Linked DNA regions of Homo sapiens. The protein of the gene in region 1 interacts with the protein of each later gene in a pairwise test. Each region holds a gene or a part of one and is shown in the gene's direction. Other genes may lie near its edges.

Region 1 (5,330 bases):
TGAGTATGCCATATGCTATGGTTTGAATATTTGTCTCCTCCAAAACTTGTGTTGAAACTTAATCCCAAGTGTGGCAGTATTGAGAAGTGAGGCCTTTGAGAGGTAATTGAATTATCACCCCTGCCCTCATAAATGGATTAACTCATTCATGGATTAATGGGTTAATTGGTGATCATAGGAGAACTGGTAACTTTATAAGAAGAGGAAGAAAGGGCTGAGTTAGCATATTAGCATGCTCAGCCCCCTCACCATGAAATGCCCTCCACTGCCTCAGGACTCTTCAGAGGGTCTCCACCAGCAAGAAGGCTCTCACCAGATGCACCCCTCCACCCTGGACTTCTCAACCTCCATAACTATAAGAAATAAATTCTTTTTATAAATAAATTACTCAAGTTCAGGTATTCTATTCTAAACAACAGAAAATGGACTGAGACACCATATTTGTGAATAAATACAATAAATAATTTTAAATTCCTTTTGTAATAACTATTTAGACCCATTTGATTTGATTTTTATATATTTTTTCAAGTTAGGTTTATTTAGTTTGCTGCAGCAAGAAAGAGAACACGGCACAGAAACTATGGGGTGTGTCATTAAGAAGGAATTGGGAAGGGCTTATGTTAAGATTTGAGCTTATGTTGGGTGATTCTAAGGAGATTGTAGAGACAGCAGGTAGATCCATTTTAAGTAAATTCTAAAGAGTAAAACAACAACTCAGTTTTCTTATTCAGTATCACATTGCATCACTAATTCTTCTCCCCAGACTACCTTTCTCACCCTAACCTTTTCATTAGGCCTTGAGAGGGCCCAGGGAATCACTTATCATCAGTACCTCTCTGGGTTGCTTTTAATCTTATTTATATAATTACTTCAGATAAAGGCACCCCCAGTAGTCACAGTCAGCCCCAGCCAAGTCATCTCCCCAGACATGTCCAAAACTGTTGTACTTTGCTTTTATAAACTCATTTTAAGCTCCTGTCTTTCAGCAGCTTCAGTTAAAATGCCACCATGGGCCGGGCGCGGTGGCTCACGCCTGTAATCCCAGCACTTTGGGAGGCCGAGGCGGGCGGATCACGAGGTCAGGAGATCGAGACCATCCCGGCTAAAACGGTGAAACCCCGTCTCTACTAAAAAATACAAAAAATTAGCCGGGCGTAGTGGCGGGCGCCTGTAGTCCCAGCTACTTGGGAGACTGAGGCAGGAGAATGGCGTGAACCCGGGAGGCGGAGCTTGCAGTGAGCCGAGATCCCGCCACTGCACTCCAGCCTGGGCGACAGAGCGAGACTCCGTCTCAAAAAAAAAAAAAAAAAAAAAAAAAATGCCACCATGAGGATAACTGAAGTGATTTCTTCAGGTAATGCAACCACATTACACTGGCATTTTCACATCTGAGTTAGCAGTTCTGCTGGAGCTTTAGGCACCCTGAGTCATAAGGCCCTCTGCATCAAGCCAGGTTTGTGTGCCGCCTGAGTGGCCGCAGCCCATAAGCAGCCATGTACGTTTTTCATGGATGTTAAATGTAATACAAAATAATACAACAAACAGCGATTCAACCAGTAATATAAAATCCATACAGGAGTAGAGGTTTTTCATCAGTGGGTACTCTGCTACCCTTGATCTTTTGAGGTACTAGTTATCCTAGTCTATAATCTTCCCTTTATTGGCCTAACTTATATTTTCTTACTTTATTTTCCACATTCCTTTTTGGCCCCTTGGCTTTCTTCAGCTCATTTCTTTGCATAGTTACTGATTCCTTTATGAATATTAAGCTTTATTTATTTATTGATACTCCAGTACTAAATCTTGTTTGTTACTCCCACTGGCACATTGGATTCCTCTCCTTCTAGCTCTCTGTGTCTCCAATCATTTCTTCTTTCTAAGCCCTTTCTTTCCTTCCAGACTTTCCTTAGTCTCTGACATATCTTTTTATCCTTATTCCCTATTCTGTCTTTTCCATAGAACTTTGCAACTTTACAGTTTAGTTGACTGCCTCCTCAGTATGTAAACCTTTCTCTATGTCTTATATAAACTTCTCAATATTTTGTCTTACACTCTCCGTCCTTCACATTGTGTGTTGTTTTATAAACATGCTAGCAATAATCATGTATATTTCATTTGGATCATCCTTTCTCTTTCCTGGTGACATTTGTTTTTCCATTTCAGATGAAGACATCAAAACTACAAATGTGAAATCTGCTTCAAGGCAAAAGACTTCTTTAGGCATAGAACTGCATTGCAATGTTTCCAATATCCTTCATATGAATGGCTCCCAGAGTTCCACATATAGAGGAACCTATGAACAAGATGGTAGGTTTGAAAAGAGACAAGGAAACCCTTCTTGGAAAAAACAACAGAAATGTGATGAATGTGGCAAAATCTTTAGTCAGAGCTCAGCCCTTATTTTACATCAGAGAATCCACAGTGGAAAGAAACCTTATGCATGTGACGAGTGTGCAAAGGCATTCAGCCGAAGCGCAATTCTGATTCAGCATCGACGAACCCATACTGGTGAGAAGCCCTACAAGTGTCATGACTGTGGCAAAGCCTTTAGTCAGAGCTCAAATCTTTTTAGACATAGGAAAAGACACATTAGAAAAAAAGTCCCATAAGTATCATGAGGGAATCAAAGCATTTACTCAGAGCTATTTCAGCACAAGGGAAGACACCAGATGCAAACGCTCCTTAGTACAAATCAGTGGTCTTAGTAAGCACCAGTCTCCTTTCAAGACTCATGAAAGCCACAGGAGAGAAGGTTGAAGATCTCAGGTCAGCATTATTTGCTTTTCTGCTTATCAATGCAGTCTCAATTCTGACGTTTGCAATTCCAAAGCTTAATTCAGATTTCCATCCCTATGCAGGCCTTGAAAAGGCATTCTCAGACATGTTCTACTATTTTCATTATTAACACATATAATGAATTAGTATATATCTTTTTAGACAAGTATGTTTTTTCCCTCATTGAGAAGGAATGTGTGAGTTACTCAGTGTAAAAATAGACATTCTCCTCCATTTCATAACTTGAGCACTAGAATTCTAAAGACCAAAAATTAAAGCACTCAAAAAGAATTCCTGGCTGGGTGCGGTTGGCTCATGCCTGTAATCCTAGCACTTTGGGAGGCCGAGGCAGGCAGATTGCCTGAACTCAGGAGTTCAAGACCAGCCTGGACAACACGGCGAAACCCCGTCTCTACTAAAATTCAAAAAATTAGCCAGGCATGGCAACGTGTACCTGTAATCCCAGCTACTAGGGAGGCTGAGGCAGGAAAATTGCTTGAACCGCTCAGACAGAGCAAGACTCCGTCTTTAAAATAAATAAATAAATAAATAAATAAATAAATAAAAATAAAAATAAATTCCTATTTTGTCTTCTGTTACTAGATTCAAAATATGAACATGCGATTGCAGAGGCCCAAAAGAATATGTACTTCAAGACTAGGCTGAAGTGCCCCAGGTCACTTTCAGGAGGCAGATAAATAAAGGCCTTATCTTATGAAAGCACACAAGAGCCTCCATACTATTAATATCAAGTTAATTTCCCGTGTTGGAAAAAAATAATCTCCTTTGCAATGTAATTTGGAAATAAGTCAATGGAAACATGAAAATGACTGCTTGTCTACAAGGAGTCAGCTAAACATAAGGAATGTTTTCATAACAATATTAATCTATGGGTGCTTCTGTAAGATGGATGATCATCTTAATATAAAGAAAAAAGGGAGATGAACAAAATTGTCAAACAAGACTGATGTACCACAAGTGTTGTCAAGTACAGTGTGTGTCGGAGAGATGTACCACAGCTTAACTGGAAGAGGAAGCCCGTAACTGCTGATGACAATACTTTCAGTGTCCCCTTTTCTGGCATAAATCAACTATGAATATGTTTCAAGCATCACAAGACAACCTTTTCAGAGTCTTCTGTATTCTTAGTAAGATGAGTTTCTAGACACGCTGTCATGAAATGAGACCCTGGATTTTGATGCTCTTGTACATATGGACAAATCACTGAAGTTCAATTTAAAGGGTCCACTGCAGTCCCTTATAAACAATTGTTGAACCTAACCATTATAGTTTATAAGTTTTAAGACATTTATGGGATATCTTATTTGGCTTATCTATGGGATATGAGTAACTATGTTTTACCTGCATTTAATTCAGCCAGATTCCCTGTTTAAAATTACTGAATCGTACATTATTAAAATTATTCTGACAGTATACAAACAACAAAATTATCTATTTTCCAGAGATTCTTGATAAAACTCTGTAATGTTACTACAATAATACATGTATTGTGTTTTCCATGGTGCTACAGTTACACAATATGGAGGCAAACATCAGAAATCAAAGTCCTTGGAATAAGGGAAGAGACTCATAGTAAACTTCTTTGTCTGGTTGGGTTCCTCATAAAGTATAAAACATTTCATTCTCAGAAAATCCAACCATATCTTAGAGTATCTCCAGAAACTGGCTTAGAGGAGCTCCAAATATGTGGAATTACCACACTCTGCTTAGTTAGTATGCTGATAAATGTAAGATTAGTAGGAGGAGAAGTGAATGTAAATTTTATTATAGAATTTTCTGATAGTGATTATGATTTGTAGCTCTAGTGAATATGAATTTTATATTGAGTTGTGTGTATCTTGAGTCACTAAAAATGTAGGATACTTTTTATTTGGGGCTCATTGTCTTTGTAATTACGGAGAGGAACAAACCATCTATTGAAACAACAAGTGCCTCAGAGATGTATATATTGTGAATTACTGCTTAATTACGGAAAGAGTTTCTTAGGTTCTATGTGAATAAGATGGCAGAATCTAAATCAAGTATTTTGAAGGAAGCACCCATCTTCACTTGGTGCTGCCATCAACTTTGTAAGATTGCATTCTATTTATTGTGAATAATTTGAGTGTTTCCACAGGAAAGTGGTATGAATCATATCGTCTAAGTATATGATGAATCTTTAAAGGGTGTCTCTGTGTACTTTGAATTATTTTGCAGTTATGTAGGTATCCTAATGAGTGAATGGTACTAGTTTATATAAAAGGAGAATTCATTGAGCTAACCTTGGTTTTAAAAATTAGCATTAGCACCCCCATTATATTAATTTTCAGGGATAGTAAATACTCCAAAATGAAATTGGTATTGTTTTCTGGCTTTCACTTCATCTGGGCCTTCAAGATTACCAATAATCCTATATGGTTTGTTTGTTTTTGTTTGTTTTTGTTTACCACTCCCATTCTCTTCAGAGACCAAGTCAAATGTTCATCACTGTCCTTACAACAGTGGCTTAAAACAGCAAGCCTTTGTGTTAGGAATGCTTCTGGATGCAAAATCCA
Region 2 (5,330 bases), on another chromosome or scaffold:
GGCCACAGTGCTTTCCAGAAAGGTCGTGCCAATTTATATTCTCACCAGCGGATCAGTCCAGAGTACAATTGTTAAAGACAAACAAACGAAACCTCCCTGCTTATTTTTATTTTTACAACTTTTAATGTTTTCTTCAGTTATATGTTCACCATAGTCGGCTTGGAAAATGTACAAAAGGTAACTTCTTTTTTTTCTTTTCTTTTTTTTTTTTTTTTTTGAGACAGAGTCTTACTCTGTCGCTCAGGCTGGAGTGCAGTGGCACAGTCTCAGCTCACTGCAATCTCCGCCTCCTGGGTTCAAGCATTTCTCCTGTCTCAGCCTCCCGAGTAGCTGGGATTACAGGTGCGTGCCACCACGCCCAACTCATTTTTGGTTATTTATTTTTTTTGGGATGGAATCTCACGCTGTCACTCAGGCTGGAGTACAGTGGTGCGATCTTGGCTTACTGCAACCTCTGTTTCCTGGGTTGGAGCAATTCTCCTGCCTCAGCCTCCCACGTAGCTGGGATTAGAGGTGTGCACCACCACGCCGGCTAATTTTTGTATTTTTAGTAGACGGGGTTTCGCCATGTCGGTCAGGCTGGTCTTGAACTGCTGACTTCAGGTGATCCACCCACCCGGGCCTCCCAAAGTGCTGGGATTACAGGTGTGAGCCACGGCACCCGGCCACAAAAGGTTATTTTAAAATTACTCTTCCCACTTTCCCTCTCTTTTCAGAGTCTCCAGTCTCCCTTGCCCTCTTCCTGGTCTCCACCCCCAGCTTGGACCTGGTAGGAAAGTCAGGAAGACAGCAAAGATAACACCATGGGTAGACCTGCTGCTGGTGGTGGTGTCATCCATTATTATGTAGCCCACCTGGCTGCTTCCATTTAAATGGAATTTAAATTTAAAATTCAGTTCCTATTTCAGGTGCTCCTAGCCACACGTAGGTGGTTGCATGGGTAGAGAATCTTTACATCCCTGTAGGAACTTCACTGGGCAGTGCTGGCCACACCACGGGGCAGGCATTCTTGTTCCCGCAGCTCGTCAGTCAATGTGTGTTGAATGACTAAATGAGAGGGAGATAGACACTAAGTAAGGGGAAAAGTTGTGTTCAGAAAGTCATGGAGGTTATGAAGACAGTGCCATAAGGATGATGGCCAGGACATCTGCGAGGGGAGGAGCTGGGGTGGGAAGGGGAGGGGCTGGGGTGGGATGGCAGGTGCAAAGGTCCTGGGGCAGCCAGTGGCTTGAACTCAGTGCAAAGTAGCCTGTGAGAGGCATGTGGAAGATTAGGTCAGAAGGTGGGAAGAGGTCAGGTTGGTTCCTTGGGGTGCTGGAGGTCAGAACAAGGAAGTAAGGAGCCGAGGGGCATCCTGAGTACAGAGGGCCACCATCTGATGTGACCCCTCTGTCCCTGCCCCTCTCTGCAGGCCCCTGATTGCTGATTCTGTCCGCCTGCCACACCGGCTCTGTCCGGAGCCACTGGGACTCGGGATCCAGTCCACACACACCCCTCAGAGGGGCACTGTGGCCAGAGAAATGCTTCCACGGCCCAAAGCCCCTGCCTCCCCCAGACGCCCCCAGACCCCAACCCCGAGTGAGCAGGACGCAGACCCTGGGCCAGCAAGCCCCAGGGACACCGAAGCCCAGCGTCTGCGCTTCCGGCAGTTCCAGTACCACGTGGCGAGCGGGCCGCACCTCGCGCTGGGCCAGCTCTGGACGCTGTGCCGCCAGTGGCTGAGGCCCGAGGCGCGCTCCAAGGAGCAGATGCTGGAGCTGCTGGTGCTGGAGCAGTTCCTGGGCGCGCTGCCCAGCAAGATGCGGACCTGGGTGCAGTCACAGGGCCCCCGAAGCTGCAGGGAGGCCGCCAGCCTGGTGGAGGACCTCACACAGATGTGCCAGCAGGAAGGTGAGAGGCGCAGGCTTCCTGCCCCGGGCCGGGCCAGGGGGCCTGACGTCTCCGAGGACCGAACTGCCCTCCTTCCCGCCCACATCGCTCCCACCCCTGCCCGGCCCCTCCCGACCAGCAAACCTCTCCTGCCCCGCGGCTGTGTTTTTAATTATTTTTACATATAAATGTGCTGCACGCCTCATCTGCCTCGAATTTCTCACTCAGTCGGTGATTAAAGATCCCTCCATTTCCCATGCGTCCATCTGTCCTGTGGCTTTGTGTCTGCTGCTCCTCACGGCTGCTCTCTGGGAAGGACGCTGCCTCGCCACTTCCTCCCAGCCACCTGCAGCGCCTCCTGCAACACTCAGGAATCCTAGAGATCCTTAAGCCTTCACAGGGCGCAGGCCCCATCGCTGGCTGATGGTGGGGAGAGACGCTTAGGTCTGCATCCCGACTCTGGGAGCTGGGAAATTTGGGGTTGAAACTGGGCTCCCTCCCTGTCTCCTCTCTCAGCTCCCCTCTCCCCTGACAGGGCTTTGTCCTTCTGCATCTTTGCCCCTGTGACCCCACGTCGAGATTCCATCCACCCAGGGCCCAGTCCCATGAGTGGGGCTCTTTCTTTCCTAGTGACAAAAGTGCAGGGATTGGACACTGGGAGGCCAAAAGAGGCAGCCACGGATGGTGAGAGCAGTCGTGGCACTGTGGCCTCGGGAGGGCTTCCCCAGCAGGGCCCCAGCAAGGAGGGTGCCAGGCAGCCACGCTGCAGGAGCAAAGGCTGGGAGTGAGAAGGGTTGCATCAGAGCTCACAGAAAAGAGGGGTGGAGCAAGGGAGAGGAACAGGCCCTCCCTTTGCACCCTCCCACTACAGCATTTCCGTAGACCAACAGTGATAAGCAGTTTGCAGAACACAGGGTCCAGGGTCCCCTTACTGCCCCAGGGCAGCCGGTGCCACACTTAGGAAAGCTGTGACAGCTGAGCTTTCCAGAGGCTCAAGGGTAGCCCTGTAAGCTGCAAGGCAGAAGCCAGATGAATTGGCCCTTTGAACTCTCTGATCCTGGGGTAGAGGGCCCAAGAGCACTGGCTTCTGGCGCTCTGTGGACCTCACAGCCATCCCAGCCCAGAGCCACCCTTGCTAGTTTTAATGTTCCATGGTCACTCTCAAAATTCAACGTTTTTGAGCAAAGGGCTCTCTATCTGTCTTCCATAGCGGTGGTCTGCTTTCTACATTCCATATTTTGAGCCTATGAAACAGTAGAGCAAGTATAATGAACAGCCCTGCACCGGCCACCCACCCTTATCAAAGCCCAACCTAGGAAATGCTTTGTAATCTCAGCACTTTGGGAGGCCAAGGCAGGCGGATCACAAGGCAGGAGTTCGAGACTAGCCTGGCCAACATGGTGAAACTCCGTCTCTACTAAAAATACAAAAATTAGCCGGGCGTGGTGGCGCGTGCCTATATTATATCCCAGCTACTCAGGAAGCTGAGGCAGGAGAATCGCTTGAACCCAGGAGGCGGAGCTTGCAGTGAGCCAAGATCACGCCACTGCACTGCAGCCTGGGCGACAGAGCGAGACTCCGTCTCAAAAAAAAAAAAAAAAAAAAAAGGAACAACCAGTGGAATCAGCTGAACCCCCATGCACGTCTCCTAGTCCTGTTGTCCCCCGCTCTGCCTGACACCCCAGAGGTGGCCGTGATCTTGAATTTTTCTTTTTTTAATTAAAAAATAAATAGGGGGGGGTCTTGCTGTGTTGCCCAGGCTGCTCTCAAACTCTTGGGCTCAAGCAGTCCTCCTGCCTCAGCCTCCCAAAGTGCTGGGATTACTGGTGTGAGCCACCACGCCTGGCCTGGTTCCCACGTCTTGACCCTTCTGTCAATGGTGTCCTGAACCCTGCTTCAGCAGTCGTCCTCTGTGCACTCTGTGCACACAGCCCCGGGGGGCTTGGGGAGCAGAGGGCTCACAGTGCTCGGGCCTCCCTAGTTAGTCAGTGCTGCAGTGTGTGTCCTCGTGGGCTTCTGGAGGCGCACAGGGGTGTGGAGTATGAGTGAAGAGGGTACTTGTCTTCAGCGGCCCTCGGTGTCACCACAGGTTCCTGCCCAGCAGCCACATGGAGGGACAGAATGACAGCCCTGCAGCCACTCTTGCCTGCGCCTCAGGGGTGCTGCAGGGATGTTCGGGGAAAGTCTGCCCTCCCCAGAAGGCCTGGAGAATTGGGGGCTCTGGGAAGAACAGGCCCCTCTCACGATCCCTTTCTCCCGCACAGTTCTGGTATCTCTGGACTCGGTCGAACCCCAGGACTGGAGTTTCGGTGAGGAGGAAGATGGGAAGAGTCCAAGGTCCCAGAAAGAACCATCGCAGGTGAGCCCGGGGCCCCCAGCTCCGTGCTCCTGCACCCCAGGGCATGCGTGCCGCTTCTGGGACGGCCTCAAGGATGCCCCATCCAAGGACTGTGTGAGGTTGTCCCCAGCGCTCCCAGGAAGCCCGGCCTCCAAACTCCCCGCCTGCCCCACAGATTCCCCAAGCTTCCTGGGGCTCAGTGCTGGGCGAGGGCAGTCAGTGCAGCTGTGTGTTTGCTGTGTGCCTCTGGGCCTCACCCCAGCCCCTCCTGTCCTTTCCCAGCCTCGCAGTTAAGACCCATCCTCCTGTGTCACCCGCACCAGATGCTGCGTGTGTTGAGAAAGTCCTGCTGCCCCGATCATCTTCCCTCAGTGAACCCAGGATTCTGGGCGGGCCCAGAAGGAAATGCTGAGGGCTCCCCTGCAGCTAGACCTGCTGTTGCGCAGGCCTCAAGGCGACGGGAGGGGCCCGGCTCGGTTGGGAGCCAAGCGGATCTCTGTGTGGCTGGAGAGATTAAAATCAGGGGTGGGGACACGCAGACACATGAGAGAAATCCAGGGGTAATGGGTAAATCACAAAAGAACAAAAGTAAGAACTGCTAAGTGAGTAGCATGTGTTCGTATGATCAGGGCTACTGAGTTTGACCACTTTCTGCCTCTGGATCTTGGTATTGGAGCCGCCAAGGGAAACACAGCACGGTCGAACAATGAATGGAGCAAGGTTTTGCTCACAGACCAGAGACCGGGCCAGAGCACCATCTGCCCATGTGGCTGTCAGGCCGGGGCCAGCAGGTCCCTCCTAGAGGGGTCCTGACCTAACAGTGGGGCTGTCTAGGTGCCACGTGAAGCACACGCCTGAGCAGAACAAAGGGGCACACATTGGGAAACAGAGACCTCCACACGAGGCACTACACCCAGCACAAACTGGGGGGACCCCTTATCTCTTGGTAAGGAGATGTTCTAGGCCCAGGACCCACTCTCAGGCAGCCAAGTAACAGGCTGAAAGACTGCACATGTGTGTCTCCCACTGGCTTAGTCCGTTCTGGGTGCTGTAACAAAATACGGCTGGGTGTGGTGGCTCATCCCGGTAATCCCAGCACTTTGAGTGAGGCCTCACGGGAGGC

What was found. Proteins that work in one complex are often made in the same cells at the same time.
Region 2: the proteins of ZNF396 (region 1) and ZSCAN1 interact in a two-hybrid assay, tested with the Homo sapiens proteins (one large-scale study listed by BioGRID and IntAct).

Annotation. Positions count from the first base shown.
Region 1 is NC_000018.10:35,366,494-35,371,823, reverse strand, and holds the end of ZNF396 (zinc finger protein 396), read left to right. Parts: intron 1-2,163; coding exon 2,164-2,609; 3' UTR 2,610-3,378; coding exon of another isoform or gene 3,379-3,473; 3' UTR 3,474-5,130; downstream 5,131-5,330. UniProt on the Homo sapiens protein: Isoform 1 and isoform 2 act as DNA-dependent transcriptional repressors.
Region 2 is NC_000019.10:58,036,317-58,041,646, forward strand, and holds part of ZSCAN1 (zinc finger and SCAN domain-containing protein 1), read left to right. Parts: exon of another isoform or gene 1-166; coding exon of another isoform or gene 167-177; intron 178-1,411; coding exon of another isoform or gene 1,412-1,520; coding exon 1,521-1,890; intron 1,891-4,133; coding exon 4,134-4,228; intron 4,229-5,330. UniProt on the Homo sapiens protein: May be involved in transcriptional regulation.